Linked DNA regions of Homo sapiens: region 1 is linked to region 2. Evidence: fine-mapped expression QTL. A gene starts in region 2. The other region holds a variant in brackets. All regions are shown on one strand. Distances are between the middles of the regions. Region 1 has its middle 89 kb from the start of IQSEC1. Region 2 holds the start of CHCHD4 (coiled-coil-helix-coiled-coil-helix domain containing 4).

Region 1 (15,117 bases), 960 kb before region 2:
AACTAAAATCAGAAGTGAAAGTTAGAATTTTATTACTGATTTTGTAGAAATATAAGGATTATATGAGAGTCCTGTAAGTAATTGTACAAGAAATCATATAACCTAGATGATTCAAATTCCTAGAAACACCAAACCTACTGAGACTGAATTACAAAGAAATAAAAAATCTGAATGGACTCATAACTAATAAGGAGACTGAATTAGTAATCAAACACCTCCTGACAATGAAAAGCCCTGGACCTGATGGCTTCAACTGATGAATTCTACCAAACATTTCCAGAAGAAATCACAACAAACCTTCTCCAACTCTTCCAAAAACTTCAAGTAGGGAGTGCTTCCTACATCATTCTGTGAGGCCAGCATTGTCTTGTACCAGAGCTAAACAAAGACATTACAAGAAAACAACACACTAATACCTCTTATGAACATTGATGCAAAAATCCTCAGCAAATATCAGCAACAAAATTCAGTAGCCCAATAAAAGAATTCTGCAGCATGACTAAGTGGAATTTATTCCTGGAATGCAAGGATGGCTCAACATCCAAAAACTGTTCACTGTAATGCATACCAGAATTAAGAGGAAAAAAAACACATGGCCATCTTAATTGGTGCAGAAAACATACTTGACAAAATTCAACACTTTTTCATAATAAAAACACTAAACAAGGCTGTGTGGTGGCTCATGCCTGTAATCCCAGCACTTTGGGAGGCCAATGCGGGTGGATTACCTGAGGTCAGGAGTTCAAGACCAGTCTGCCCAACATGTAGAAACTCCGTCTCTACTAAAAATACAAAAAAAAAAAAAAAAAAGTAGCTGGGCATGGTGGTGCACACCTGTAATCCCAGCTACTCAGGAGGCTGAGGCAGGAGAATTGCTTGAACCTGGGAGGCAGAGGTTGCAGTGAGCTGAAACTGCACTGCTGCACTCTAGCCTAGGTGATAGAGCGAGACTCCGTCCCAAAAAAATAAAAATTAAAAATAAAATAAATAAAATAAAAACACTAAACAAAATAGGAATGGAAAGAAACTACCTCAACATAATGAAGACCATATACAAAAAATCCACAGCTAACATCATACTCAGCAGTGAAAGACTGAAAGCTTTTTAGCTAAGATCAGGAACAAGACAAGGATGTCATTTTTGTCATTTGGGCTCAACATAGTATTGGAAGTCCTAGATAGGCAATTAGGAAAGAGAAAGAAGTGCATGATGGAGGGACAGAAGTGGGAGCATTCAGGCATGTGGACAGACAAGCTTAGCACATTTAGCTCTGGCCTCCTTCCAGAGGTGCTCCCCTTGGATGTGGGAAGTGGCAAGTACAGAGACCAAAATAGCATGCTGTGCCAGGGCACATGGCAGAGCACTGAGGCACAGCACTGCATAAGACAAAGTTCCTGCTGACATTCCAGTGGGGACAGGCAGATAAGGGACAGAAGTAAACTGGCTGATGTGCAGAGATTGGCTAGGTTACTTCAGGTGAGATGATAAGGGAAGAGGAGCTGACATCTGAAGGGGGATTGGACTGAGGAGAACTCATCTTGGGTGAGACCTGGGGGAGCATGTTCTAGGCTGAGGGAACAGCACAGGCAAAGGCCCTGGGACACTAATGAGCTTGGAAGAATGGAGGTACCAGAAGGCCAGAGTGTGATGACCACAGTGATGGAGGAGAGAATGGAGAGTCAGATGTGGACAAGATCAAGAAAACTCTTGATGTTTTCATTTCCATTTGAGATAAGGACACTGAGGCTCAGGGAATTTGAGTCATTTGACCAAGGTCATTCAGCTTAGACCCTGGTTTCAAAGTCCTCACTGTCCCAAACACTGGACCTGGGTCAGATGCACACATACACATTGTGTCACCACCTTCTAAGTACCTTTAAGATTTGGTTGCAATAGAAGCAGATGTTTAGACAAGGCTTACCAAATGTATTTTGGGATTTAGTCTAATTCCCCATTAGTAGACTCCCTTGCCCCCACACCAATATCTCTGCCTCATCTTCTAAACAGTCAGTTATTAATTCTCTACACAAGTTCACAGAAAACAAATCAAAACGCAAAATACACCCAGTCAGATAGGTTTTTGCCCAGTGACTTCAATGTGGCTCCTATAAGATCTTTCTACTTCCCGTGTAAAGAAAGGCCCAGTAGTGCCTCTGAAAGCAGGCTGAGGGTATCCAGAGGCCATTCAAGGGTCTCAGGGACCCACAATTCATAGGCCACACAGCAGAATGAACACAGCTGAAGAAAGCACTAGTGAACTAGAAGACCATCCTGAGGAAATTGCTCAGGATACAGCACAGAGTCAAGGAGATGGAAAAGTAAAGTCCACCACAGTCAAGAATGCCCAAGAAATCTCAATCATAAACCCAGGGGAGCAAAGGAAGGAAGGAGGACAGCCAAAAGGGCACACTCTACAAGCAGCTGCTACCACCTCCTGCTCATGTAAACATGGGCTTGCCTCAGACCCTCCCTCAGGATTCTGAGCAGCCGCGTCTCCACAGACTGTGGCAGAGGGAGAAGAAAGGAAATGGATGTTAACTGAATGCTATGACATGGCATGTGCTGTTCCATCTATGCCTCATTTAATTGGTCCATGGCCTTGAGGCTAAAGTCTTTGCTCCGATTTCATCATGGGGCAGAAATTAACTGTATCTCATTGGTCTTCACACCCTTAGTAGTTAGCACAAAGACACAGTAGGTGCTCAATGAAGACTGTTAAATGAGTGTGAAATCTGAGGCTTGGAGAGCTCAGGGGCTGTTGCATAGTGACATGAGGGTAAGACAAAGAGAAAGGATTTGAATTCAAGATTATCTGCCCCCAGTGTCTGTACTCTTTTGATTCCACCGTGCTAAGAAATGTCCACTCGCCTCCAGAGGCCGCCGGCTCAGCCCTCAGTCCAGCACCTCCAAAACATGGCTGGATAGCGGCAGAGGGACCCGGCCCAGCCCCAGCCCGTCTCTCACATTTGGAGCCTGCTCCCATTCCTTCCTGGAGAGAAAGAGTTCAGCTCTGTCTACCTGGCACAGCAAACACTCCCAGCTTTGTCTGCCACGTTCAGCAGTTTTCATACCTCCTTGTGAACAAAATAAACTGTGTGTTCTCATTTTGGGTTTGGGGAAAAAGGCCCAGTTAATTACAAAGGCTGCTTTGCCTTGGTATGGAGACAGAAAACTGGATTTGTTTGGACTAATTACGTTTACTCACACATCTTGGTTCCAGCTGAGTCAATGCTGGTAACCAGGCCCACCGTCTCCAGAATCTCCCCCACCATCCCCAAACAAAACAGTCCTTGGGCTCTCCTCATTGTCCCAGCCCTGAGCCTTGCTGTTGCCTTTGGAAAATGCCAGTCAACGTTCAGAGTCCTGACGGGGAGGCGACCTACATGGGACCACCTCATGCAATATGCTTCTAAGGTCAGGGCTGGGCGTGGTAATCCCAGCACTTTAGGAGTCCGAGACAGGCAGATCACTTGAGCCCAGGAGTTCAAGTTCAGCCTGGGCATCATGACAAAACCCTGTCTCTACTAAAAATACAAAAATTAGCCAAGCGTGGTGGTGTGCGCCTGTAGTCCCAGCCACTCAGGAGGCTGAGGCACGAGAATCGCTGGAACCCAGGAGGCGGAGGTTGCAGTGAGCTGAGATCACACCACTGCATTCCAGCCTGGGTGACAGAGTAGGACTCGGTCTCAAAAAAAAAAAAATTCTTCTAAGTGTTAGAAGCAAAATTTCTGCACTTCAGTCAGCTCATGCTTATGAAGGGTACGTGTCTGCCACTGGACACTGGCATACTTGGAGAAATTCTGTTTCCTTGGAGAGACCATATGTTCAGGCAGCCTGTTAAGATCATGTGGGCGCTTATTTAAAATGCAGATTCAGGCTGGGCACAGTGACTCACCCTGTAATCCCAACACTTTGGGAGGTTGAGGCAAGCGGATTACTTGAGGTCAGGAGTTTGAGACCAGCCTGGCCAACATGGTGAAACCTGTTTCTACTAAAAATATAAAAATTAGCTGGGCCTGGTGGCAGACACCTGCAATCCCAGCTTCTCGGGAGGCTGAAGCAGGAGAATCGCTTGAACCTGGGAAGTGAAGGTTACAGTGAGCCGAGATCACGTCACTGCACTCCAGCCTGGACAACAAGAACAAGACCCCATCTCAAAAAAATGTAGATTCCCAGACCCTGCCCAGACCTACTGAGTGAGGCATGAAAGGGATAGGGCCTGGCAATCTGTATTTTCAACAAGCACCACAGGCGACACTGACTTGCGAAGGCTTTGGTGCACAGCATCCCACCTTTGCACTCGAAATCCACGTCATCCTAGGCAAGCTGTTTTGTACTTCTCAGCCTCAATTTCCCAGAGCTGAAAAAATAAGGGCCAATAATAACTCTCTTACAAGGGTGCGGGTGGTTGTGCAGATGAGGTGAGACCCCCACCCACAGTGAGAACTCATTGAATGGAACTTATTCCTATGACTGAATGTAGCTGAGTTAATTTCAAGGATTTGACGGAGTGCTGGGGGAAAAAAGATAATGCTTGCACCCTGCAGAAAGCCCTGGCACTTTCAAACCAGTATCCACATTCTCTCTAGACCCTCCACCCGGTCATTCATTTTTGCAGACTCCAAACTCCACAAACCTCTTCTCTTCCTATGGTCCCTCTTCCATAAATAAATCATTAGAAGATTCACATTTGAGGGCCTCCAGAGCCTTCCTCTTAGTGGAGTCAAAAGCAGACACATCCTCCCGGGGAACAATGAGCAAAGTCCTACATTTGCAAAATGGTCAAAAAATGAGTCATTTCATTTGTGGAAAATGAATATATCTGATCTTGCAAATGTTTTGCCTCAGGGGAAAGTAGTGAGCGTGAATTCACAAACAGGCTTCTCCATGCAAAAGCACTTCCCTGCTGCTCCGGAGGCTAAGAAAAGCAAACCAGAAAGGTGGCAACTCCGATCATTTGAGTCTAAAGAACAAGAATCTCACCAAGCAGGGACCTTGGGGCAGGGCAAGAGCTGGTGGGGAGGAGGTGTCTCTCAGGGCTATCCTTAATTTTTTAAATTTATTTTTGGTAGAGACGGGGTCCGGCTATGTTGCCCAGGCTAGTCTTGGACTCCTGGCCTCAAATGATCTTCCTGCCTTGGCCTCCCAAAGTGCTGGGATTACAAGTGTGAGCCCCCAAGCCCTGCCCCTGTGTGTCCTTAATATTTAGCACAAGCCATGAGCTCTCAAGGTCAGTCATATTTTCCTTAGGCAAATAAAATCCATACACAGCTTCACTGATTTTTCAAGTGCAGAATCTCTGCCCATTAATTTTAGTGAGTGTTTGGTAAGGGGAGGGTGTTGCGGGGGCAGTCTCCACTGAGCATGGGAGTGGTCCATTTTTCCTCTTCCTTCTGGTTTCTGGCCTGAAAATATTTATGAGTCCTGAGTCCAATCAAACACACATGAACATGTGCCTGTTCTGTGCAAGGCATCCTGCCCAGGGCTCCCAGCAAGGCCAAGATGAATCCACTGCACAGACACCCCCTGGGTGCCTGTTCTGTGCCCCACAGGTGCTGGCACCATCGAGCCACAACTCAGGGGCCTCATCCCTGTCCTGGGGGTCTTCCTCTGCCTGAGAGGAAAGACAAATGCTTAAGTCATTTGGACACAAAGCAGAAGGGACTGGGATATCAAAAGTGAAGCATAAAAGGCCACAGAGACAACCAGGAGGCCACCCTGTCAGCCCCAGCTCCCCTGAAAGCTCCAGAAAGGCAGCTGCCATGGGGGCTCTGAGAAAGGAAGGGATCTTCGGGGGGTGGAGTGGAGCATTTTCTAAACATAGGAAACATCCTGAGTCACACACAGCAGGGGGCAGGCACGCAGGAATCATGGGCCGCATTTAGAAAGGCGAGTGGCATCATTTGGTGGGAGCTGGAGGTGCGCATGGGAAGGCTGTGGAAGCGCAGCTGCGCTGGTAGGGGTGTGGCGTCCAGGGACCACCAGGGCCACTGCCACAGTGTGTCAGCCCAGGGGGAGTGCGGGAGGAGAAGCGGGGGAGGGCCGTGGTCACACTTTAGTTTTCCAACCTCCCCTCTAGCGGGTCTGGAGAGGGTAGAAGCGCTCAGAGAGAACTGCAGTCAGGATCCCAGGTTTGGGGACGCAGACCCCGCACGGACACTGCTCTGGAAGCCCAGATCTGGTGACTCTCTGTCCAGAGGGTGGGGGCAGGGTAGATCTGAATGATCTGGGACCTCTGGTCCTGAGAAAAGGGAGGCCCAGCTCCTGGGGGAAGGGTGTGACCCATGACATAGGCCTGGCAGCCAAGTCGTCAGCTGCATGGGAAGAAACACAATGCCTGTGCATGATGGGGACAACGGGCCAGGGCAGGTAAAGCCATGACGAGTCACATCTGACCCCAGCATCTTAGCCTCAGCAACACTGTCTACTGCGATGTCCACACGGCAGGGCATTTTGGGGCTGGATTCTTCAGCCCTGGAAGAACTAAACACAGCCTTCCCTGCTGGAACTTCCATCCGCGATCTCCCTTGCCCGGCTTCTCCTGTCTGTGCACCCTGCTGGGAGCTGTGTGGCTCGGAGCTGGGACATATGCTCGGCTCTGTGTGCCAGTCCCCCTGCAACGCAGAGGCCATTCCTCATTCTCCCCAGGCAGCCAGTCATGCTCACTCCTGGGGTCCCTGCACATGCTGTTCCCCCACCGAAATGTCGTTCCCATCCTCCTCCCCCAGGGCTGGGTTCCACAGCGCCTGCCTGGCAAATGCTTTCCTGATGATCCGCTGGAGTGAACACCAGGCCGGGTGGGGCTGGGGCAGACCAGATCCCCACCACGAGGGTGTATTCACTCTACATGTTCACTAGCCCCCGCTCAGGTCACCAGTGAGAGCAGGCTGTTCTCAGGGCGACCCCGTAAGGGACCCGCTGCCCACCATGAACTTTCACAGAATGAGGGTTTCAGGTAAGCAGCTGCCTTCTTGGAAGACAGAGGGAGAAGGGCACCTTGGGGGGATTGGGGGAAGCTTAGATCCCAAAGGAGCCCAGAGAGGCAGGCCAGGGAGGGCCTGAGAGGCTGCGAGGCCATCTCCTTCCTGAGCCTGCAGCCCCTCCGAGTCCATGTGGGAATCCCCTTCCACCTCAGAGCCAGCCCCAGGGATTGGCAACCCACCCTCTCCCTAACCTGTTGTTTTGAATTAATTGTTTGAACAAGTATTACATTGACAGGGTTCAGAACCCTCAGGAATATTCCTAGGTCTGCCCTGAGGAAGCATACAGGCACTGGAGGCCCTGCCCCTTGCCCTCCCTCTGAAGGGACCATTTTAAGAGACAACTGTTTCCTTCCTGCTTCTTTTTGCTGACAAATTAAATAAGAATATACGTACTTACACCTGCCCTTTCTTACCCAAAGTAGTGTGAGATGTGTACTCTCACACCCTGCTTTGCTCACTTAATGGTACATTCCAGAGCTTTCTCCATCGTGCACCAGGGCAGTCTCCCCTCCTCCTCCTCAGGGCCACGCTGTGTTCCAGGGTGGAGCCATGTGGCGGTGCACACCTCAGGCTGCAAGGGGCCTGCTGCCCCCTCCCTCGGATCCCCAGACCCTAGCCTTTGTCCATCCATCCCCCCGGGCATCCCCCCCTTATCCCTTTAGCTCCCACTCTTGCCAGCCCAAGTGCACCATCCCCAGCTAGTCCCCTCACCTGGGCTTCACCCCTGCACACAGTCCTTCTGGGACCCTCTCTCTCTCCAGTTCCCCTTCTGAGCATGCCTCTGCTTCCTGCGAGACCCTGCCTCTCACTCCCTGGACTCTGGTTCCCTGGAGCCCAACTCCCTGCCAGTGTCCCCTGCTCCAAGCACATAGCCGACTGCCCCAAGTATAAGATTCAGCACCCCCTGTGCTGCCACCCAAGAGGCTCCCTGGGATGCAGCCTCCCCCAGATCTGTCTCTTGTTCTGCAGGCACCTGGAGGACCCCACTCCAGCTGGCATCCTCACGGCCAAGCTCAGGACATCTCATCTCCCCAGCCTGTAACATCACAATACAAACCAGCCACCTCAGGCCACCACCCTAAGACCTGGAAGTCCATCTGCTGCCAGAGGGGACTGGGGGTCCGTGGGCTCTTAACTGCCTCCTGGCCTCTCCTTCGCATCCCCAGCCTCACCATGCTGACCCCCATCTCCCATGACCATGGCCTTCTTGGTCCCCCAGCTCATGCCTTGAGAACTGCTGGGCCTCAGGCCCCGTGGCTGGGGCACTGACACCCCAGGTACTGTCTCAGACCAGACCCTCTTCTAGGTTCAGTCAGAGCCTCTGGCAGAAAGCCCACTCCATGTCCACCCCCACCTACCCTCGGTTGGTGGGGCGAGGATGGGCAGGGGCATTACGCCTGCCGTGGAGACACCCCTGCATTGTTAGAGGCTGGTTAGAGCCGGGCCCACCACCAAGCATCTTAGACTTGCCCTGACCC[C/T]GCCCAGCCCAGCCCCAGGGGTGTCAGGTATAGAAGTTTCTGGTCCTAGACGGGTCACAGCCTTGGCACACTGGGCCATCACCAGCCCCAGAAAGGAAGGGACAACCACCAACCTAGGTGATCTCTGCAGAGGTCACTCTAAACACAGGGAAGCTGGGAAGGGCTTTTGCTCCAGGATGCAGAGCCAACAGACGTGCTCTGCAGATCATGCCCAGGCCCTTGGGGCACACGCCAGGGCTGAAGGGGGCAGCCAGGGGAGGAGAGGTCTGACCTGGGAGACCCGCAGGGAGAAATCAAAGCACATGGTTTCATCAACGCCGCTCACCGCCAGGATTCAGACACACGGACAGAGGTGGATGAAGCACATACCTGACGCTCCGCGAGCTTTCTCCTTCAGACCTGCAACGAGAAGAGCACACGCTTAGAGCCCAGAACCCTCTGCTCCGGGAGACCTGCACAACGACACTAGATGTGGGGACCCTGAGGCCCCAGCTGCTCCCAGCATCCCCTCCCCAGCCTCAGCAGACATCCGCAGGCCCAATCCTCCGGGGTCTCTTGCTGCTGTTCCTTTGACCTGGAACTGTATTCAGAAAGTCCACTCTTCTTAGAAGTCTTAGGGTTCCTTTCCCACCCTCTTCCTGTTTCCATCACCTTGACTGCAATTGTTTTCCCAGGATTTGAATACACCCCAGGAGTCAAGAGCAAAGCCAGAGGAGGGGTCTATGGTTCCAGAACTCTGACCTGGGCAGCAACTAAATGAATGAATGAGTGAATGAATGAATGAATGAATAAGTGAGAGCGGTGCGACTGGCCTCACTGCATCCCCTACTTGGTATTTCCAGTGTTATTTCCCCAGAACCAGCTCTATTTTCAAGTACTCAGAAATCAATTACAACCATATTACAAAGGAGACAACCTTGAATGTCAAGAAATTGGACAATCAGATTGTATTGCGCACTTGAACTTTCACGAAGACTGTGACTACGCGGTATTGACAGTGATGCCTTCCTGCTCTGTACACCAAAGGAAAGGGACTTTGGGATTAAACTCCATGCAGCTGATGGCTAAAGCCTCGCTTGGGCTTCCTGGGTCTGAAGGAGCAAAGGGCTTTGAGCAAACACATTCAGGAATCTAATCCCTGGATGTCCCAAATTGGATTTTATTGCCAGAGAGCTAGAGAAATAAAAACTTACTTAACCCAGAGTCAGAGATTTGTCTTTTTGTTCATTGCCTTTTCAGTAACGTTCCAGAACGGAAGTCAGAGCACATGCTGCACGACCCTTCAGCATAGAAAGCCCCAGGGGATGCCTTTCCCACTGAACCAAGCTTGCCCACAGATTCAGACCCGGCCTCCCTTGGTGCTGCCCAGCCTGGTCGCGCTCACCAGTAGCAAATGAGACAGAAGGCAGGTAGTCCCCAGCAATGTGTGCTCCAGGTGCCTGAGTGCACACCCCTTGTTCTAGAAGGACCTTGGTCTCCCTCTCCAGCAATTCTAATTCAGCATCAATGCACAGCAACTTGGATCACATGGTCCCCACGGCAGCAGGTGAAGTGGTGATGTGAGATGGGAATGGCGCACAGACACCTGTGGCATCTCCTTGACCCCGGGGGCCATGGGACAAGGTGCAGACCAGCCCCTGGTGGCTGAAGACCCTCCACAGAATTCCCAGGAAGCCTGATGATGGGGAGAGGAGATCCCAGGAGCAGCTTTTGAAAGTTCTTATTTTTTGTTTTTGTTTTCCATTTGATCATAGCCAGGACAGAAAAGAAAGCAAGCGGGGGGGTGGGGGGTGGGGGGGTGGCGTGTGTGTGTGTGTGTGTGTGTGTGTGTGTGTGTGTGTGTGTGTCTGTCTGTCTTCACTTCATCGCCATCTTAGGTTGCTCACCCTGGGGAAGCCGGCTGCCCTGTTCTGTGAGCAGCCCCTCTGGAAGAGGCCCAGGTGGTGAGGACCTGAGCCCCCTGCCACCAACCATGAGTGTGAGCCCAGAAGCAGATTTTCCACCCCTCGCTGCTGCAGCCCCAGGCAACATCATGACTGCAATCACATGAGCGGCCCAGAGGCAGAGCCACCAGCCACACTGTTCCTGCATTTCTGACCTCAGAAAGGGAGAGGTAGGGTGCCCTGGTCCACTGTGCGCTGACCAAGAAACACAGGGTGCAACCGGGCCCCGCTTACGGACATGCCTGAGTAGGCAGCTCCTTTCTCGCTGTCCATGGCAATGACACCACAGGCTTATGTGTGTAAGTTCCCTAATAAATGCTGTGGACTGGTCACCCAGGCGTTCAGGGATCCTTTCTTCGGAATGACAACTGGCTCCAGCTCAGGAAGGTTTGGGGCACTCCTACAGGAAACTCCCCTGCCTCTGCTCTTAGGGTAACTCCAACTATGGATTCAGCAGGACAGAACACAAGACCATCAGCATTTGCTGTCTTCAGCTCCTACGTTTTTGGGGTCACTTGTTACATGGTAATTGATAGCTAACACACAGTTCCTGCTCTGCGCCTCTATCCCAGATCTCTGTCTTGTGGCCTTCACTCAGGACCACGTGAAGCTCTCTATTTATGTCTCTTAGGATCTATCTGCCTCAGTAGGACGAAAATGCCACAAGGGTAAGGGTTTTGTCACATTCACTGCAGGGTCTCCAGTGCTTGTTATGTGGCTGAGGCATAGCAGTGCAGTCACGCCAGGAGCTCCACATTCTGGGACGCCAGGGGACAAGCACTGACCCTGAGCCATCAGAGTCTCCTGGGTCCCAGGCCCAGCTTCATCCCTTACTGGCTTCCAGGTGGCCTCAGTAGTCACTTAATCTCCATGAGCCCCAGTTTCCTCATTTGCGGATTAGGGATGATAGCAACAATTGGCCCCTAAAATGTGGTGAGGAGATAAGTACATTCCCAGCACAGAGGCTGATGAATAAAGCTGCTTCTCTCACCACCTACCCGAGGTGTGGTTTGAGGATGTGCTGACCTGTGGGGGCCTGCAGGGAAGGAACATCTGGAGGAGATGGTGCCTCCCACACACTGGAGCCCAGCTTGGGGCCTGGCACTGAGCAGGCTGTAGGAAGTGTCTGCTGTGGGAAGCCAGGACTGCACTGACCCAGAACCCACACTCCAACAGCAACACACAGTGGAGTCATCTTTTACACCAAGGATGGCACATGCAGAGGATGCCCTGGAGCCCCTGGCATAACATCGCCCGTCCTATGGCCGAAGGAGCAATAATGTGGGGAGAAAAGCGAGAGGGGCTGGGCAGCCCCGGGGTGGAGGATGCCTGTGCGTGTGTGCATGTGCAAACATGTGTGCATGTGTGTACGTGTGTGGTACACTGTATGTGGGTGTGCCTGTATGTGCGTGTGTGTGTGCCTATGATTATGGCGGCACTCAGCATGGGCAAAGAAGCAGATGGTCAGGAGCATCCTGGAGCCTTCTCGTTCCTGCAGATGAAGCTGAGATCTAGGAACAGGATGATCCCCGATGCTTTTGCATGGGCTGTCCCTGAGGCAGACCTGGAGATAAAGATTCAGCTAGGAGTTTATTTGGGAAGTGAGAAGAGAGAAGGGCTAGGGAGGTGAGAAGAGAAAGAGAAGGGGGCTAACAATGGCTGTTATCAAGCTGCCCAGCACCTCACTATATCCACCACTGTGGGAAGCTGAGGCTCAGTTTACCTGGGAGCCCTAGAAACCAGTTCAAGCTGCCTCCAGCAATCTTATACCAGGGCCGAAGCAGCTGGGAGTGGCTGAAGGCTGCTCCTGGGGAGGAGAAGTCTGCACGCATCAGCCTGCCTCACAGGTGGCCGAGGAGCTCCCCCAGGCAAGGAAGGGGAGGTGCTGACAGGTGGACGTCAGCCTGGTGGCACTTGGGGGGGCAAAAGCAAGAGGCTCAGACAGCCAGTGCTCCCCGGACAAGGAGAGTCTCTGGCTGTCCTCACAAGAGCATAGAGGATAACCAAGCCTTTCTCCAGGTGGCCTTCAGACGGCCAAGGCTCAAGTGATAGTGTTTGTCGCTCTGGTTCCTCTTCTGCAGTGGAACCTGCAGACTGCCCCCTTCGCCATGTGTGCAGCCCCTCCTTCCATGCTCACTGGACTTGAACCTCTGGAAAACTGAAATCTACCTTTCCCAGATGCCCTTGCAGCTCTGGTTCTGCAAATGTTCTCAGCTTCTCTGGGCAGAGGCCTGTCCAGACTGAGAAGGTGGGCATGAGCAGCAGGGTGGAGAAATGAGCTCCCGGCTGGAAGGGAACACAGGCTTCTGGTTCTCCCAAAGCAATTGGCTCCAGTTTCCAGGTTTAAGCCTCACAGGCAGTGGGGTTTCCATGGCAACAGTCAGGTGGATTTAGGTGATGGTCCAGGTTGTGTTGTTCCTGGCTATGGGACATCCAAGCTCGGTCCTGGACTCTGAGTCAAAATACATGGAAATAAATCCCCCTTAGCTCAAACTAGAAAGAGCAGATTCTGTTGTCTGCAACTAAGTGCTGTGACTGATCCAAATTCAAGTTCTCAAATCACCACGATTATTTTTCTTATATGGCGTGATGTAGAAAAGCGTAAGAAAAACAAGTAAAAATCATCTCTAATCCTACCACCTGGAGGTAATCGCTATCACATTTTTGCATGTATGCTTATGGGCTTTGTTTCCTGTCCATTTTTTTATACAGTGGAAATGACAGTTTACATCAGTCTATGCCCGTCTTCCTCACTTAACACGGATCATAAGCACATCTCAGGGGCCTCATCCATGAGGCCTTCAGCAGCTCCCCAGTCCAAATCAGGTTCCTCTACCTTCACTCTGCAGCAGTCTGCCCTTGGAACAAAATTCAAACTCCACACACAGCCCACAAAGACTGCAAGGTCTGGCCCTGCTCAGTCCTCCACCTTCTTAGGGTTCCAGTTTCCCCTCGGCTCCCCACTGCAGCCACACCCTTTCATTCTGCCCTCACACAGCCAAGCTCCCCAACACCAGCTCTAGGGCATTGCTGTTCCGTCTTCCTGGAAGATCTGTCCTGTCCCTGGCTTTTGATTTCAGTGGCTCCATCTTCTAATTCAGATTTTACTTTAAATACCACCTCTTAGGACAGGCCTTCCTGGTATCCCTCCTATCTAAATAGCCCTCCCCTGGCCCCCCAGATTCTCTGCCATATTACCCCATTCATCCTCCTGTGAACATGTGACAATCTGAAATTGTCTTATTTGTCTACTTGCTTATTGTCTGTCTTTCCTAATAGAACGTCAGCTCCATGAGAGGAGGTACTGTATCTGTCTTATTTATCACCATATTCCTTATAGAGTTCCTGCAAAATTCTTTTAAAACAACATGTATCTCTCACCATATACAAAAATTAACTCAGGGTGGGTGATATGGTTTGGGTGTGTCCCCACCCAAGTCTCATCTTGAATTCCCACGTGTTGTGGGAGGGACCCAGTGGCAGGCAATTAAATCATGGGGGCAGGTCTTTCCCATGCTGTTCTTGTGATAGTGAATAAGTACCATGAGATCTGATGATTTTATAAGGGGGAGTTTCCCTGCACAAGCTCTGTCTTTGCCTGACGCCATCCACGTAAGATGTGACTTGCTCCTCCTTGCCTTCTGCTATGATTGTGAGGCCTCCCTAGCCATGTGGAACTGTAAGTCCATTAAACCTATTTCTTCCCAGTCTCAGATATGTCTTTATCAGCAGTGTGAAAATGGACTAATACAGTAAATTGGTACCAGTAGAGTGGGGCACTGCTGTAGACACCAAAAATGTGGAAGCGACTTTGGAACCAGGTAACAGACACGGGTTGGAACAGTTTGGAGGGCTCAGAAGAAGACAGGAAAATGTGGGAAAGTTTGGAACTTCCTAGAGACTTATTGAATGGCTTTGCCCAAAATGCTGATAGCAATATGGACAACAAAGTCCAGGCTGAGGTGGTCTCAGATGGAGATGAGAAACTTGTTGGGAATTGGAGCAAAGGTGACTCTTGTAATGTTTTAGCAAAGAGACTGGCAGCATTTTGCCTCTGCTCTAGAGATTTGTGGAACTTTGAACTTGAGAGAGATGATTTAGGGTATCTGGTGGAAGAAATTTCTTAGCAGCAAAGCATTCAAGAGGTGACTTGGGTGCTGTTAAAGGCATTCAGTTTTCTAAGGGAAGCAGAGCATAAAAGTTTGGGAGATTTGCAGCCTGACAATGAGATAGAAAAGAAAAACCCATTTTCTGAGGAGAAATTCAAGCTGGCTGCAGAAATTTACATAAGTAATGAGAAGCCGAATGTTAATCCCCAAGACAATAGGGAAAATGTCTCCAGGGAATGTCAAGAGGTCTTCACAGCAGCCCCTCCCATCACAAGCCCAGAGGCCTAGGAGAAACAAATGGTTTTGTGGGCCAGGCCCAGGGTCCCCAAGCTGTGTGCAGCCTAGGGACTTGGTGCTCTGCCTCCCAGCCATTCCAGCCATGGCTGAAAGGAGCCAATGTAGAGCTCAGGTTGTGGCTTCAGAGGGTGCAAGCCCCAAGCTGTGGCAGCTTCCATGTGGCATTGAGCCTGAGGGTACACAGAAGTCAAGAATTAGGGTTTGGGGGCCTCTGCCTAGATTTCAGAGGATGTATGGAAACGCATGGATGCCCAGGCAGAAGTTTGCTGTAGGGGCAGGGCCCTCATGCAGAACCTCTGCTTAGGC
Region 2 (15,117 bases):
GGCTGGGTGAGCACAGAAAAGCACATCAGTCCTGGCCAAACCAGGGTGGGTGCATTCACTGCCTTAGAGTGACCCCCTATGAAGTATTATCACCCTCAGCCCCCATGGAGTACAACAGAAAACCAAGGCTGAGTTAAGCAGAAGGGAGGTCCTTACAGCCCTCTCTGCTACACCTTGTAGCTGTCAACACTTTACCTCACCTCCCTAAAAACTTTGGCCATCAGCTAACCACACCACAGGTATGTGTCAGATATTCCCATTGTGGGCAAGGAGCACCTTGTCCTCAGTACCCCACACTGCACGGTGGGTCATCAGTTTCTCCAGCTGTCCCCAGAGAACAGACAGAGCCAGTCCATCTTTTGGTCCTCCGTGTGAGCTCATTCCTCCATCCTATCGCCACCCTGAGAGGGAGGTAGCAGCATCCCCTTTTAATGGTGGTGAGCCTGAGGCTGTGAGTAGTAACTTGCTGGGCCACACAGGACAGGATGCTCTGAAGTCTACACTGTTGGAGATCCTTTCTACACACCCATACTGCCCCGCACCAACATTTGCACAAGAATAATCGACAGCTGACACTGAGCACTTAGCATGACTGGGCACTGCCTGAGAGCTTGTGCACCTTGGGCAATGAATAAATACAATAAATTCTGACCCAACCTCGGCCCCAAAAAGCTTAGAACCAAGTGAAATGTTTGCCAAGTAAACAAACAAGATCTTTCTTGTACTTTCCTGGTGAAGGTGAATGACAAATTCTACAGACCAACTGACCATGCATTCTGATCCTAGAAGATCTGGGGTACTGGGACCCTCATCTGGAAGGGGATAGGAGGTGCCAAGCATTTAAGAAGACTTCTTCAGGTATGGCCAAAAGTGCCTGGCAGAGAGCCACAGTGCATGGCTCTGAGTGAGTGGCCACTGTGGGCGCAGAGGCCGGACCTGCAGAAACGTGGCCCTGTGAAAGCTGCGGGCATCTCTGATCACTTTATACTTTTTGTTTATATTTAGAAAAGTTCAGTCACAGCTATGCTGAGGGGAAAGCAAGGAAAAAGGTTTGGGCCCATGCTTGGGCTGAAGTAATTAAGGAAGAGGCTTCTGGAAGGAAGGGGGCAGTGACAACAAAAACCGAGCGACATCTCCAGTGAGAAGGACAGTTCAGGGGACAGAGGGAGGGCACTTTGGTGCCTTACGCCATGCCCACACTGCACAGGGTCTCTTACACTAGAACAGAGTAACAACAAAAAACCCTCAGCACACGGGGCCAGGACCCCCAACCCACTGGAGGCTTTTGCTCCCAGAGCTGGCCTCTGCCTCAATACCTTGCATGTCATCCAACAGAAGGCTGCTTTTCCCCTGTGGCTGACTGGGGAAAGCTTTTGGACCAGGCAGCCAGGACTTGTTAAAGTACCTAGTAACCTTGATTCTACTATTCTGGCCAGTTTCCAAAATACTCAAAAGCAATCTGTAAAAATGTTGAACGCTAAGCAGAATGAGCTGATGCAAATTTCGCAACTCAGCTCTGGCAGTTTTGTTTACCGAGATGGCAGCTCAGCGCAGCCCAACGGGGAGGCCCAGTCACAGGCACAGAAAGCAAAGGGTCCAAACGTGGTAAAGTATGAGGCCCTCCTGGGGTTTGCCATACATAGAGAGACCAGGCCTCACCCAAGAAAAGCTGAATCGAGCTCTCTGCCATGTCCATGTAGCTCACGGGCTTCACAGGTGACTGTGATACACAGCCAGGTTAGGAAACACCAGCCTAGCACAATCCCACTGAGAATTCCAGGTCCCTCCCACTGGGCCAGGTCCTCACATGTGCCTTCCTGGACATTTTCCCTTGCAGCACAGTTCACACTGGATCGAAAGTAGAACAGTAACAGCTGTATCTTTTACACATTTTTGTCCCATGCAATGTGTTTTATTACATCTGTGAGTTCACTGGTGGGTATTACTTTATCTCCATTTTACAGAGACCACAGGATCTGAGAAACAGACCAAAAGACATGCAGTAAATGAAGGCAGAACAGGAACAGGAACTCTGGTCTGAAAGATCTGGAGTATGTCCCCTACAAACTGTCCATTGTATGCCTGTCCTAGAGGGCCTTTGCTTTCTGGAACTTTTAAAAGTCGATTCAAGGACTGATGCAAGGACAAGGCTTACCTATTCCTAACAGACCTAACTGTGAAAGAAAGGACTGGTCAGACTAGTCGTAAGATGCCAACTAGTGGGACAATCAGCTAGACTAGTAGTTCTCATGACATTTGTCAGCAATTTCTCTAGAGAAATAAAATTTAAAAGTGCTTGTGTTTTTATTTCTAAGATAAGCTTTAAAAGCAGTTGAATATGCATGTTCTGAAGGAGGTGGAAAACTACCTTAAACCCTCTGGTGCACAGTGGCTTCAATATTTCAATATCACAGAGAGTCTGAGAACTGGAGTTCAAATCTGGGCTTAAGCACTTCCCACTGTATGAGCTCAGGTACCATCTGGGCCTCAGAAACCAGGCCTTACCACCAGCTCCACCTACCTACCTCACGTGGTTGGGGAGGTGAAATGAGTTTCTGCTGTCAGCTGGAATCCCACTTGACAGCAATTTTTAAAGGGCATCAAGGATAGCATGGCCAGGAAAAGAGACAATCACAGGCTCAGAGATGTCAATAATGTTTTGGAAATGGGAGAGCTGATGGTCGAGTGCTCTCTGACTTAACCAGTGAAGAAAGCTGAACTCAAAGTGCACAAGGAGGAGGTCATCCAGAATCAACTCAGTCCCCACCCCAGAACCTTGGTCAGAGTGGGGAACTGGAGGCCCGAGGGGTTACTCTGAGTGCAGGACTTCAGGGTGGGGCTGAGAACAGAACTGAGTGAGCAGTCAGATACAAAGACACCTTCCACCCCCAGCTGTTTAGTTTTACTCTCGGTAGAGCCACCCCAACCCGTCTTTCTCTCACATCTCCAACAGCAAATTGGAATGGCTCGATCTTCAAATACATCCAGAAAGAGCTGCATCCCTCACCTCTTCGACCCCATCTCCCACCATCACTCCCTGCACTCCAGCCACGCTGGCCTCTGCTTTTACTTGAATGTGCTGAGCACATGCCTACCTCTGGCCTTTGCACAGGGTGTTCTGTCCTCCAGGAGCACCTTCCCTTCCCTCAGGTACCCTCACAGCGATTTCTCCCTGCTTTCACCTCCTGCTCAGATGCCACCGTCCCTGACCACTGCCCATCTCCCTTATCCCGCTTTATCTTTCTCCAAAGTGCTTTTCGTCACCCAACATACTATGTATGTTTACCACTTGATGCCCCCACTGGAATGTCAGCTCCTCAGAGGCAGTGATTTTTGTCTATTCTGTTCATTGCAGTATCCTGAGAGCCCAGAATAGTACCAAGGACAAAGTGGGTGTTCAATATTTGTTGAAAAAAATGAATGGAGAAACAACTCTGGATTAGGGCTTGAAGACCCAAGTGTAAGAATTAAAGAGGAGAGAAACACGAAGGGTGGCTTTTCAGTCAACAGGGACAGGTTTATTTTAAACAAACCTGAGAGGGGCTGCTGGCTGAGTTAGGTCAGAGCCACACTCTCTTACAGACTAAGAGTTTTTAAGGATTCAGGGTGGGAGAGCTTATCAGTGGCTTGGACTGCTTCTGTGTCTCTTTGTTGTGCTTATCTGGGAGGCAGACTGGTGTGTCTGTTTCCATACATCTTTCTGCAGCTGCAGGCATATCCCCCCAAGACTGCTTTTAGCTTCCCTATCTTAGTACACCTGAAGGGAAAGGAATGTGCTTATTAAGGCCCACAGTTTTACTGGGGCCCATTGTATGAGGGTGAAGTTTGGCAGTCACCCAAGAGACTTTCCCCCCACCTCCCTCTGTGTCCCAGCTGTCTTGTCTGTGTTTTACTGTCTGCTCTTTCTGGCTGCTTGTAGTTAGAAGAGAAGTGACTTCCTTGAAATGCATGAGGCTAGAAAGGGAGCTGGAACTTAATGTGCCAGTGTTTGTCCGAGATGACGCTACTCCTGCTCTGTCACCCAGTCCCAGCAGAAAGCAGGAAGACAGAATGGTTATCACCATTAAGTGAGTGAGACCAAAAAATCCCTTGGATGAGTAGTTTGATTTCCCCCATGAAAGGGGAGGATCTTTATACACCAGAATCTCTCAGCTCATCCACCCCAGAAGGAATGCCCCTGTGTCCTGCAGAGGAAGCAGTTTATTGTCTCCCATGGATGCTGACTCCCCAGGGTCATGTTTGAGAATGGCAACCTGCACTAAGGACTTATTTTCTTTCGTTTTTGGCTAAGTTGATTCAATACACCTGTGATACAATTCCAACCACTACTTTCTGAAGCTCAACCCAAGAAAGAGATCTAAAGCCAGAGGGAGTGGTGCCTGTGGTGTATTTTGAGTGAGGTAAGGGGTTTCTAAGAGTTTGATAAATCTGACTGCTAAGGACTTTCATGTTTAGAATCTAACCCCTTTGAAAGATACAACTCCCCCATACAGAATCAAGTGTCTGTGAAGAATACACAAATGGCTTTCAGACAGAGTGTTAAGAAGAATGCAAGTGTTAGAAGTTTAGCTCAACAAACCTTCCTCAGCTCCAGCTCTGTGGTAGTACCTGGTGGTCACAGATGAATACGACACAGGCATCCAGTGGAGAAGACGGAAGGGGAGGGATCCTACCTTTGTCCCTGACAAAGAGCTTCAGGGAGGGAAGGAGGGGAATAGACATTCCAGAAGGAACCATCCTGGGCAAAGCCTGGAGGGCAAAAGGAGGGTTTTAAGTAGTGTTCGCTCACACGTGTTTAGGATTGCAAAAGGTTTTCTTAAGAAAGTGGCATTTAAAAGGATGTCTGAAGCCTCAGGAAGCCTTCTCAGACCCCATAGAGCCTTTCACTAAACGATCATAGCATGCTGGGCTTTTCCTTCATGTCACCTATGACAGTCTGTAATCATGCATTTGTCTGGTGATGTTTTAATGGCAATCTGTTCCACCATGCCAGGAGGGCAGAGAATGTGTCACCTTGCTCACCACTATATGCCCAATGGCTGGCACATCACGTGTGCTCTATAATTGTTGACTGAACAGGAGTTGGCAGGCTCTGCATTAGAAAGAGGAAACTAAGAAAGAAACACTATGGTGCTGACACAGGAGAAGTGTGGCTAGCCCAAGGCCCAGGTGCGAGGCTGAGAGCCCTTGAATGCCAAACCAACGAGTTTAACCTGAAGGCTGGGTAGCAGGTGGACCCCTGAAATAAACTTGTACAGGCAAGTGATTCACTCAGAACAGAGGGCAGGTAAATGCATGATTCAATAAAGATGTGGGCACCCATTGTACACCAAGCCCTGTGCTAGATGCTGGGGATTCCACAGCCCATCTGATGCTCTCAGCTTAGTGCGAGAAGACAGGCAGGAAGTAAGATGGCAAAAAATAAAAAAGGTCATTTCAGACAGTTCAGGATGTGAAAGACACAAAGGGTCAGGAGGTGATATTGGAGCTAAATGTTAAAGGATGAGGAGTCAGCCACGGAAGAGCTGAAGGCAGGATATACCAAACCAAGGGAATAGCCAAGAGGCTAGAGGCTGGGCAGCAAAAGGGTGGGAAGAGACCAGGCTGGAAAGGCAGACAGGGCCAGATCACATAAGCTCTGATACAGTAAGCAGTTTGGGATCATTTTTTAAAAATCCTATGGGAAGCATAAAGGATCAGTGGGGGGCGGAGGGGGGGAAGTTAGGGACTTCTTACGGGGACAGTGGTATGCACAAGATAAATACTAAGGAAGGCCTATAAGTGAGTGCTTTCAATTCTCACTCCTCTCCGAACTAAGAGAGATCTTTGAAGCAGGAAAAGATAGGGCTCCATGTTTTGGAGGCAGATGGACCTAGCCTCCCCTTTCCAGAGAAAACTGCCTCCTGTAAATCCTCAAAGAGGAGGGTCTTGTTTATCAGCACAGCCTCATTATACCCAAAGGCTCAAAAATTATTTGCTAAATGAAGTAAATTAGAGAAAGACTCGAAATTAAAAACAAGAGTGGTGAGGGCAGAGGACTTTTGCTTATGGCACACATTAAGTAGTAATCAGCGGAAATATAATAGTACTCATTAAAGAGTGAGTCTTATGGCTTTACGACCCAGAGGAGGAGAGGTTCTAGAAGCAGACAGCGCCACCAGGGAAAAGGCTCAGAATTTTAGGCTGAGCTAGTCTCCTAACTGGATGTGTAACTACAGGTAGGCCACCTCCTTCTCTGGGCTTCAGATTGCTTGAATTAACTGACGGAGCTGGAGTATTCACCAAAGAATTTCTGGGGGACTTCCAACTCTCTCTGTAGTTTTATAACCATCCATCCCCCTTCTCTGGCGCAGAGAAGGTGCTTCATGAGTATTTGCCGTATCAATGAAGCCCAACATCTCATTTTACAACACTGGATACCAGGGCCTGGAGGGGTTAGGTGGGAGCTCAGGGCCAAGGAGCCAGTTTGTGGCAGTGTGTGGGGAGGCCCTCCGACCTGTGGCTCGGGTACTTCTGAGCTCTTGGGTAGAGTAACATCAAGGAAGCAGTAGGTGGTCGGAGCTCAACTTTGGGGTGGGAGGTAGGCAGGGTTCTCCCTGCAATCCACTGGGCACTAGATTGGATAAGGCTCTTCTGGGGTCACAATGCCCAGGCTCAAACCCCAGCTCCACGATTTGCTGGCTGAGTGGCTTTAGCCATGTCTCCTGTGTCTAACTTTACTCTTCAGTAAAATGTGACCAACAACAGAGCCTGACTTACAAAGGTCGCAGCGAGATCTGTGAGACAAGCCAGGCAAGTTTCCTTGAACAGTGCCTGACAGGTAGCAGGGGGCTCAAAAACATTCCCGTTAGTGGAACTCCTAGCACTCCAGCACAGCACACGCTACCCCGAGTGGCAACTTTTCGGGACGCGCCTTTTAAAGGCGCGTGCAAAATGTAAACACGTGGGGTATGGCAGGAGCGGTAGTGATAATTAACCACCATACATTCCCAGTTTCGAGCCACACGCAACGTGCTCGGCACTTCCCGTGCCCCAACCGGACCTAGTTTACGACTTCCTACGCACAGGCCCCTCTGAGGTCAGGGTTCGGGCTTCACTGTGACCTTGGACCAGCCCCGTTCCCCCCAGAGCTTCGGTTTTCTCATCCGCAAAACAGGAGTAGCGACCCCCCAGCCGGCCCGCCTCCGAGTGTCCCAGGGTGGGCACCTGGGCCGCGCCTCAGGTGGCCCGCGCCCGGCGTGGTCGCGGGGCGCCGGGGCCCGCGTGTCTCCCGCAGGCCCTCGTAGGCCGGTCTCCGTGGCAGCCCGCCCTCCCTACCTTCCTGCCGGCAATAGGACATGGCTGCAGCCCGTCCCTGAGACCTTGCAGAAGCGGCGGTGGCGGCAGCTGCACCTTTACGCCGTGACCTCCCTCTCCTCTGGCAGGGCGGGCTCCTCCGAAGCCCGCGCGGACCCGCCCCCTCCCAGGCCTGCCCGCCGCGCGCCTGCCTCGGCGCCCTCGCAACCGCGGCCAGGCCAACCTCAGCCGGAAACTACATTTCCCAGCAGGTCGCGCGCTCCTCGACAGCTCTCCAGGCAGTAGAAACTACATTTCCCCGAAAGCTTTGCAGTGCGCAGGCGCATCAATGAGGTACTGCAATGTCCCGGACCGTATAGTTTCCAGGACGTCTCGCCGCGCGCATGCGCAGAAACACTGGGCACAGGGGGAGGTAACTGCAGTAAGTCCCGCTTGGCCCTGGAGTCCACGCGGATTTTCGAAGCTGGGGCTGGCAAGAGGCCGCTGGACACCACGCTCCAGTCGTCAGCCCACTTCCTAGCTGAACAGCGCGAGGCGGCGGCAGCGAGCCGGGTCCCACCATGGCCGCGAATGTGAGTATCCCCGGGCCAGCCGGGCCACACCCAGGCTTCCCCGTCGCCCTGGGGCTTTTCCCCGGGGTCCTCTAGGTCCATTTCGCCGCCTGGAGCTCCTCCGTGCGGCTAGGCCCGCATCTCCCTCTGCTCGCCGTGTCTGTGCCTTCGCCAGCTCATCCCTCTGCTCATCTCGCGGCCTGTCCAGGCTTCTTTTGTCCGTGTTCCTTGGCTCGCCTCGTCCTCGGCGTTCGTGCGGAGGCGGACTCGGAGGTGTTGCTCCCGTACTGGGATCTGCTTGTACGCCTCTCCGCGGCCCCTCCTTGCATTCCCAGTTCCCTCCTGTACCTTGGGGCCCTGAAACTTGCGCATTATGAGAGCTGGACGCGACCTCAGAGAGGGCGCCAGTCCCTTGGGAGGGAGGAAGGCGATCCAGCCCAAGTGGAGCTGTCCAGCAATGGACAGACAGGGCTGTCCAGGCGGGCAGAGAGCTCTCCGCCCTAGGGAGTCTCTGTAAACCGAGTCTGTGATGCTCCAAAAAGCTTAGGCTGGGCTGGGAGCGAAGGAGTTGGGGGAGAGGGAGCATTTCTCTACTGTCGGGGCCCCTCCTCCCCCTAGCAAGGATTTGGTTGGAGGAGGCCTGGCTGAGGGCTGTTCCCTCAAGGCCTCTTCTCCCTGCAACTAGCCTTTCTCGGGAAACTATTTAAGCCCAACATTCATTCAACAAGCAGCGCCTCCTACCAGGGCGCTGGGTGTGGGAGAAGCTGGTGACTCACCTCTCCCCTCCTCTGTGAAAGTGCTTCTAGGGCCCGCTTAGGAGCCCAGCCAGCCCCAGACACACCCTCCCTCCTGCTTTGGTAGAGTGTCCTAGCAGCTCTCCCCTTGCCTGTCACACCCTATTTCCAGACACCGCCTCTGTCCCCAAGCGTCCTCTCTGCCTCCCACACCCCTTGAGAGGCCAGGGTGTGCATCACCCACAGCCCTAGTACACTTTGTCTCGGGTTAGTATCATCCACACTCCCAGGACATTTCGGGCCCACAGGAGGGTTAGAAGCCTTGAATGTTGTACCTAGAAAAGCCTCAGAGGTATTCGGAGAGACTCAGGCTCGGCCAGGCGAGAGGGCAGTCAGGAGACCAGCCTGTCTGTAGTATGTGGACTCTTTGTCTGCTCCCATCACTACCACCACCATATTTTACAGATGGGGAACTTCCCTAGCAGGGGAAGGCACTTGCCCAAGCTCTCGTGGCCGGCTTGGCATGCTGTGACACGGAAATATGCTGAAAAGGGCAGGCTTTGGAGTTAGGGAGACCTGGGGGCAATCCAGATTCTTCCACCCAGTAGCTGTGTGGCTTTCATCTCTCCAGGTTTATGTAGCCTCATGGATCAGTTACTGTGATATTTAAGGGAGACTGCTTAGCACAGTGCCTGATGTGTGGTAGGTACTTAATACTTGAAAACAAGCCTGTCCTTGCAGGGTAGCACAAATGGTCCCAGTGGATAGAGATCATCTTGGGTACATTGAGACCTGACCCCTCACCAAGGAATATACATGCATTTGAGTATTCTCTGCTGCCAAGCATTTTTTGATTCATCCAGTAGCTGAGTACACATTTACAGCAGCCACTAGGCTGGGTGAGGAAGAAGATAGCGGGATGGAGCAGGGAGGCAACAAAATTCTCAATCAGTACAGCAGCAGCAGTACCTGTGGTGAAGGTACTATTCCCCTCTCCACTTTATAAGTGAGTAAACAGAATCAGAGAGGTAGAGCAATTTACCCAGGCTTACACAGCAAGCGATTGGTGAACCTAGGCATCAAATCCAGTTCTGTCCATTTCCAGGGCCTATGTGTCAGCCTCTGTTCCCACCACTCATTGCTCATTTCTTCTAAGTCCTGAGTGCTAGGACTGGGAGGGGATGTGTCACTGGGGATGTCCGTCTGTGTGTGCGTGTGTGTGTGTGTTTATATAATGTGTGTATACATGTAATACATACTATATGTATATATAAATATGTGTGGATATATAGATCCTTTATGATCCTCCATGTTTACTGGGAATTTTGGTTCAGAATGTGGGCTGGGTTTGTCATGTCACTGCCCACCTCACCCCTCCCCTAGCCTGAGGGGCACCCTCCTGTACCTCTCTTCCTTCCCTCCAAGGCCGTCTTTGAGCCCCTTATCTTGATGCTGGCTGAGGGGAGGCCCAAGAGGAAGACACGCCTTATTTTCCTATTGCTGCCTGCAGCTGGCTCCCAACATTCAGCTCACATTGTAGCCCAAGAGATGGGGAGCACAGACTGGAATGAGTAATGGGAGAGTAGCCTCCAGTCTGCCCGGATTTGAATCCTAACTCTTCCTCTTAGAAGCTGTGTGATCTGGGAAGATGACGTAACCCTGAGCCCGATTTTCTTATCGGTGAAATGGGGTCGTTATGACATCCCGCTCTTTGGGCTTGCCTGTGGGCTGGCCTGTGATAGACCCGGTGTGTTTGCCATTGTCATCATTGTGATGGTCACCTGCCCCTATGTGGTGATTCACTCACCTAATGTTTCCAAATGGCATGGAAAGTCAAGACGACTTCTGGATTCATGGACATCTGGTCACTGGAGGCCTTGGCTGGTGGTACTCAAAGACAATCAGAATGCGACATCAGCTTTGTTCAAGCAGAGATTCTGAGTCAAATCACTCCTCTGGCCCCCAATACCAGGATGGGGCCTGTCTTAGCTGGGCCCCACTTTACATCTTTGTGACTTTTGTCAGCTCACCCCCAGCCTGGTGCCAGCCCAGTATCAGTTGTAGGGAAATCTGGTAACATTTCTACTAGCTAACACGTGTCCAGTGCTTACCACGCCCTAGGCCCTGAGCTACCCAATAACTGTGTTCTTTGGTTCTCACCACAACCCTATGCACAGAGGAAATGGAAGGCACAAAGTGGTGAAGTTGCTTGCCCAAGACCCCGTAGCTGGTATGTGGCAGAGCATAAATGCAAACCCAGTTCTTCTGGCTCCAGAATCCTGCCCTAGACGATGACACTTTTGATCAGCAGTGGATGCACCCCAAATCATGCCTCTGTTATTGACCAAAGCCTGATCCACTCACCCTTGAGTTTGAGGCCCACTGTGAACCTGCCCAGAAATGCCTACCTCCAAGCCCTTTCTTCCTCCACTGCTCCCACCCAGCCAAAGCAGACAGGCAGCTGCTCCCCCAGAACCACTTCCTACTTCCTCATCACTGCTGATACGGTTCTCCCTTTAGGGATGCTCTTCCCCTAAGATCTGCCTCTAAGATTCCACTCAAGGGAGCCTCCTTGATACCCCAGGTGGAAGGGGTCACTCCTTGAGCACCAAGTCCACCCCCATCACAGGACCCTCTGTGTGACCTTCTAGTATTGTTTATGGTTGTGACCTCACTGCCCTAAGACTGTCTACTTCTGACCCCACAAGGGCTAGCACTGCCCTCAGAAAGCTCAGCCACTGTTTGCTGAATTTAATTAAAAATACATCTCTAATAACCTCTTTGTAAAATAGCTTGGCAGTTTCATAAAAAGTTAAACGTACATCTTCTTCACGAGCCAGCAGTTGTACTCCTAGGTATATTCCTACGGGAAATGAAAGCACATGTCTGCATAAAGGTTCATGTATGAATATTCACAGCAGCATTATTCATAACAGCCAAAACCTGGAAGCTGTCAAGATACCCATCCACTGACGAATGATTCAGCACACTGTGGTATAGTCATAAATGGAATACTACTCAGCCATGAAAAGGAACAAATTCCTGATAAACACCACAACATGAATGAATTGCAAAAGCAGTGCTCTGAGTCCAAGAAGCTGGGCAGAAAGGAGTTGGTGCCCTGATTCCATTTTTCTCAAGTTGTAGAAGAAACAAACTAATCTACGGTAGGAGAAATTCAAATTCAGATTCTCCCCATCCCCACCAGTTACCTCTGGTTGGTGGAGAGGGGGAGAATTGGCAGGAAAGGGGCACAAAGAAACTTTTTGGGGTGATGGAAATATTTTGTACCTTGCTTTAGATGTTGGTCAGATGGAATATACGTTTGTGGAAACCTGCCAAACTGTACATTGAATATCTGTGTGTTTTTACCACATACAGTTAAAACTAAAAAAAAAAAAAAAAAAAAAAAAAAATTGAGTATAAATAAATAGCAAATTTAATTTATTTTTAAAAACTAGTTTTCATTCTGTTACTGTTTCTTTTTCTTCAGTATTCCAGTACCAGTACCCGGAGAGAACATGTCAAAGTTAAAACCAGCTCCCAGCCAGGCTTCCTGGAACGGCTGAGCGAGACCTCGGGTGGGATGTTTGTGGGGCTCATGGCCTTCCTGCTCTCCTTCTACCTAATTTTCACCAATGAGGTAAAATGTCTGGGGTCTTCCTGTGCAGAGTGAGAGTCCCCACCATGTCAGAGAGCAAAGGCGATGAACCCGGAGGCTGGATTTGGTAATCAAGGGCCTAGATTTTAAAAAGAGAAAGGAGGATACTGAGTTAATCACAGTTCTTTCCATTGTGATCCATCCCACAGCTGATGTGAGCAGGAAGGGGAGTAGATCAGTTCACACACCTGAATATCCAGGGGTTAGCACCTGCCTCAGGCGTAGTTGGATCCAGGTGTTCATGCTGGGTCACCAGGAATCTCCATTTCTTCATCTTTTGCCTGTTTTTCTCTATTATGGTGTTTTTCTTGGGCAGGCACTTCATCTGTGATGGCAAATGTGGCCCCAGCAACTGGCCTACATCCAACCACTTAGCCCAGGGAAGAGAAAAACCATCTGTTTCTCTTCCTTTCTTTCTTTTCCTTTCTTTCCCCTCCCTCCCTCCCTCCCTTCCTTTGTTCCTTTCTTCCTTCCTTCCTTTGTCTCTCTCTTTCTCTCTTTCTTGTTTGTTTGTTTCTTTCTTTCTCTCCCTCTCTCTTTCTTTTTCTCCTTTTTTTTAATAGGGCCTCATGATGCAACAGTATATTTCTAAATCAATTTAGCAGCAGTTACAGGGCCATCTCTCAGTGTCCTGGCTTGGCTCTCCGTCCTCTGAATCAGTCTCCGTGTCCAGGGCGCACTCACATGTTCTGACTGGCAAGGTCTGGGTCCCATAATCTGACCAGGGTTCAGATAGACTCAGGTAAACCACATGGGCTGAGTAGGAGAGAGGAGAGCCAGGCATGGAGGCTCAAGCCTGTAACCCCAGCACTTTGGGAGGCCAAGGAGGCAGGATCGCTTGAGGTCAGAAGTTCGAAAGCAGCCTGGGCAACATAGCAAGACCCCATTTCTACAAAAAACTTAAACATAAAAATAAAATTAAAAAAAAGAAGGCAGAGAAAAATGGGGAGAAAGGGACAGGCAGGCAGAAACATCAGCTGTTCCCACCACTGGGGCAGTGCTAAGATTGGTGGGGGCTAGTGGGAACCAATGGGGCAGTAGGAAGAAGTCTCCCTGGGAAAGCAGGAATCTGGGTTCCAGTCCTTACTCTCCACTTGCTAGACCTCAGTTTTCCAACTGTACGGTGGGGAGATGGGTCTCAGCGCTCCCGGAGGCCCCATCCTACCCTAATACTTTGCAACAAGCACAGTCATGCTGAGCCACCCCTGAGCTGTTGAAATCCCCACTCCCCTTTGCTCCCAGGGCCGCGCATTGAAGACGGCAACCTCATTGGCTGAGGGGCTCTCGCTTGTGGTGTCTCCCGACAGCATCCACAGTGTGGCTCCGGAGAATGAAGGAAGGCTGGTGCACATCATTGGCGCCTTACGGACATCCAAGGTAGGTTTGGCAGGGGATGCTGACCTGCCAGTGGCTCGGGGCTCATCCTGGATGTTGTCTGGCTGAGGATTTGAAAGCATGGGCCTTGGAGATGGTCACACATGGGAGTGATTCCCGACTTTACCACTCAGCAGCTGTGTGGACTTGTCTATCCTGAGTCTCAGTGTCTTCGTGTATAAAATGGGGACGGTAATGGTTACAAGCTTGTGGCCAGCCTTGAGGATTTGGTGAGATTAGGTAACTAACGCCTTGGTACAGTGGCTGGCACTCAGGGAGGTGCTCTCATGACTCTGATGACCATGTGTGTCCAGTGCAAGGCCACAAAACTACCCTGGGCACCAGAGCTTTCCTGTTATTTGAACACCCTGTACGCTGTTGGCACCATGCCATTGGGCCATGCAGCCCAGGCCTGTACTGTGAGGGTCACAGTCACAGGCACTGTGTGTAAAGAACCTGGGACAGGGAGTGTCCTCGATTCTCCCCTGCAAAGCAGTGTAGGGCTCTCCACCCTTGTCCCCTTCTCTATTTCTTCCTCTTCCAGTCCAGCTTCCCCTGAGCCAGGCTTTCTGGGCTGACGTGAATGTTATCCTTTATTTTTTTGGTTTCTTTGATTCTGTTTGAAGCTTTTGTCTGATCCAAACTATGGGGTCCATCTTCCGGCTGTGAAACTGCGGAGGCACGTGGAGATGTACCAATGGGTAGAAACTGAGGAGTCCAGGTGAGCTGTTGGGGTGAAAACTCTGTTGGGGTAAAGGAGGAGTGAAGTGTAGGTGTCAGGATAACATGCAGATGTCTTTCATTTTGATACCTTTGAAACTCAAGTATAACATCTTCCTATCAGAAAAGTGTGAAATGATCCCCAAATTAATAGCCAGTGATTTGGAAGTGGCAAAAATCCAGTGAAGAGTGGCTCCAGGAGGAAAGGGGGATTGAGTTGCTCCCACATCTGGGAAGTTCCAGAGATGCACAAGCTTGAAGCATGACTTGGAGCAGGCCTGAAACACTGTCATTAGGATCAGCATGTCAACCCCGAGACCCCACTGCATCTCTCTGTGTTCAGCCTTCCCATCAGCTGTGTTGGTCCCATCTTTGCTCTACTTACAGCTTATCGTTTCTGACAGGAGTCCCAGGGCAGGTTCTCATTGATCAGGGCTGGGGTCACCTGGAGCTGGGGGTGGGTTCAGCCCCACCTGAATCATATGGACTGTGACCGACAGGTGGGGAGGTGGTGGGAGGAGCAGGAGAAGGGCAGCTTCAAGAGGCCCCCCGCAGGGCTGTCCTGGAGCAGAGGATGCAGCCAGATCTCTGAGCCCAAAGGGCAGGGCTGGGCCCCTTGGTGTAAGGCCAGTGCGGGCAGATTTCAGCTCAGGATGGGAGAGCGCTTTCCTCCAGGTAGCGCCTTGGAGGGCAGGAGCTGGCTGTCTGTCAGGAGTGAGTGCCCTGTCTTGGGGCTGGTGTAGAGAAGGCATCTGCCGTATCTGGGGAGTCTGATCTGGTA

Evidence for each region. PIP is the estimated chance that this variant, and not a neighbour inherited with it, causes the effect.
Region 1: its variant is fine-mapped to the expression of CHCHD4 in pancreas (GTEx, PIP above 0.99).

The regions. Positions count from the first base shown.
Region 1 is chr3:13,155,273-13,170,389 of GRCh38, forward strand. It overlaps a transcript of IQSEC1 not described here. Among named protein-coding and RNA genes, the nearest start is that of IQSEC1, 89 kb to the left of the region's middle. RefSeq lists an enhancer at 6,069-6,594. The variant C/T (reference allele first, on the strand shown) is at 8,463.
Region 2 is chr3:14,117,338-14,132,454 of GRCh38, forward strand. CHCHD4 (coiled-coil-helix-coiled-coil-helix domain containing 4) reads right to left here and starts at 7,533. Exons shown (of 3, transcript NM_001098502.2): 1 at 7,318-7,533. The coding sequence starts at 7,339. It overlaps TMEM43 (transmembrane protein 43), which reads left to right and starts at 7,715. Exons shown (of 12, transcript NM_024334.3): 1 at 7,715-7,868; 2 at 12,075-12,224; 3 at 13,485-13,619; 4 at 14,243-14,337. The coding sequence starts at 7,857. RefSeq lists enhancers at 4,216-4,950, 4,951-5,686, 6,290-6,389, 7,158-7,892, 7,760-7,959 and 2 more and silencers at 6,950-6,999, 7,010-7,569.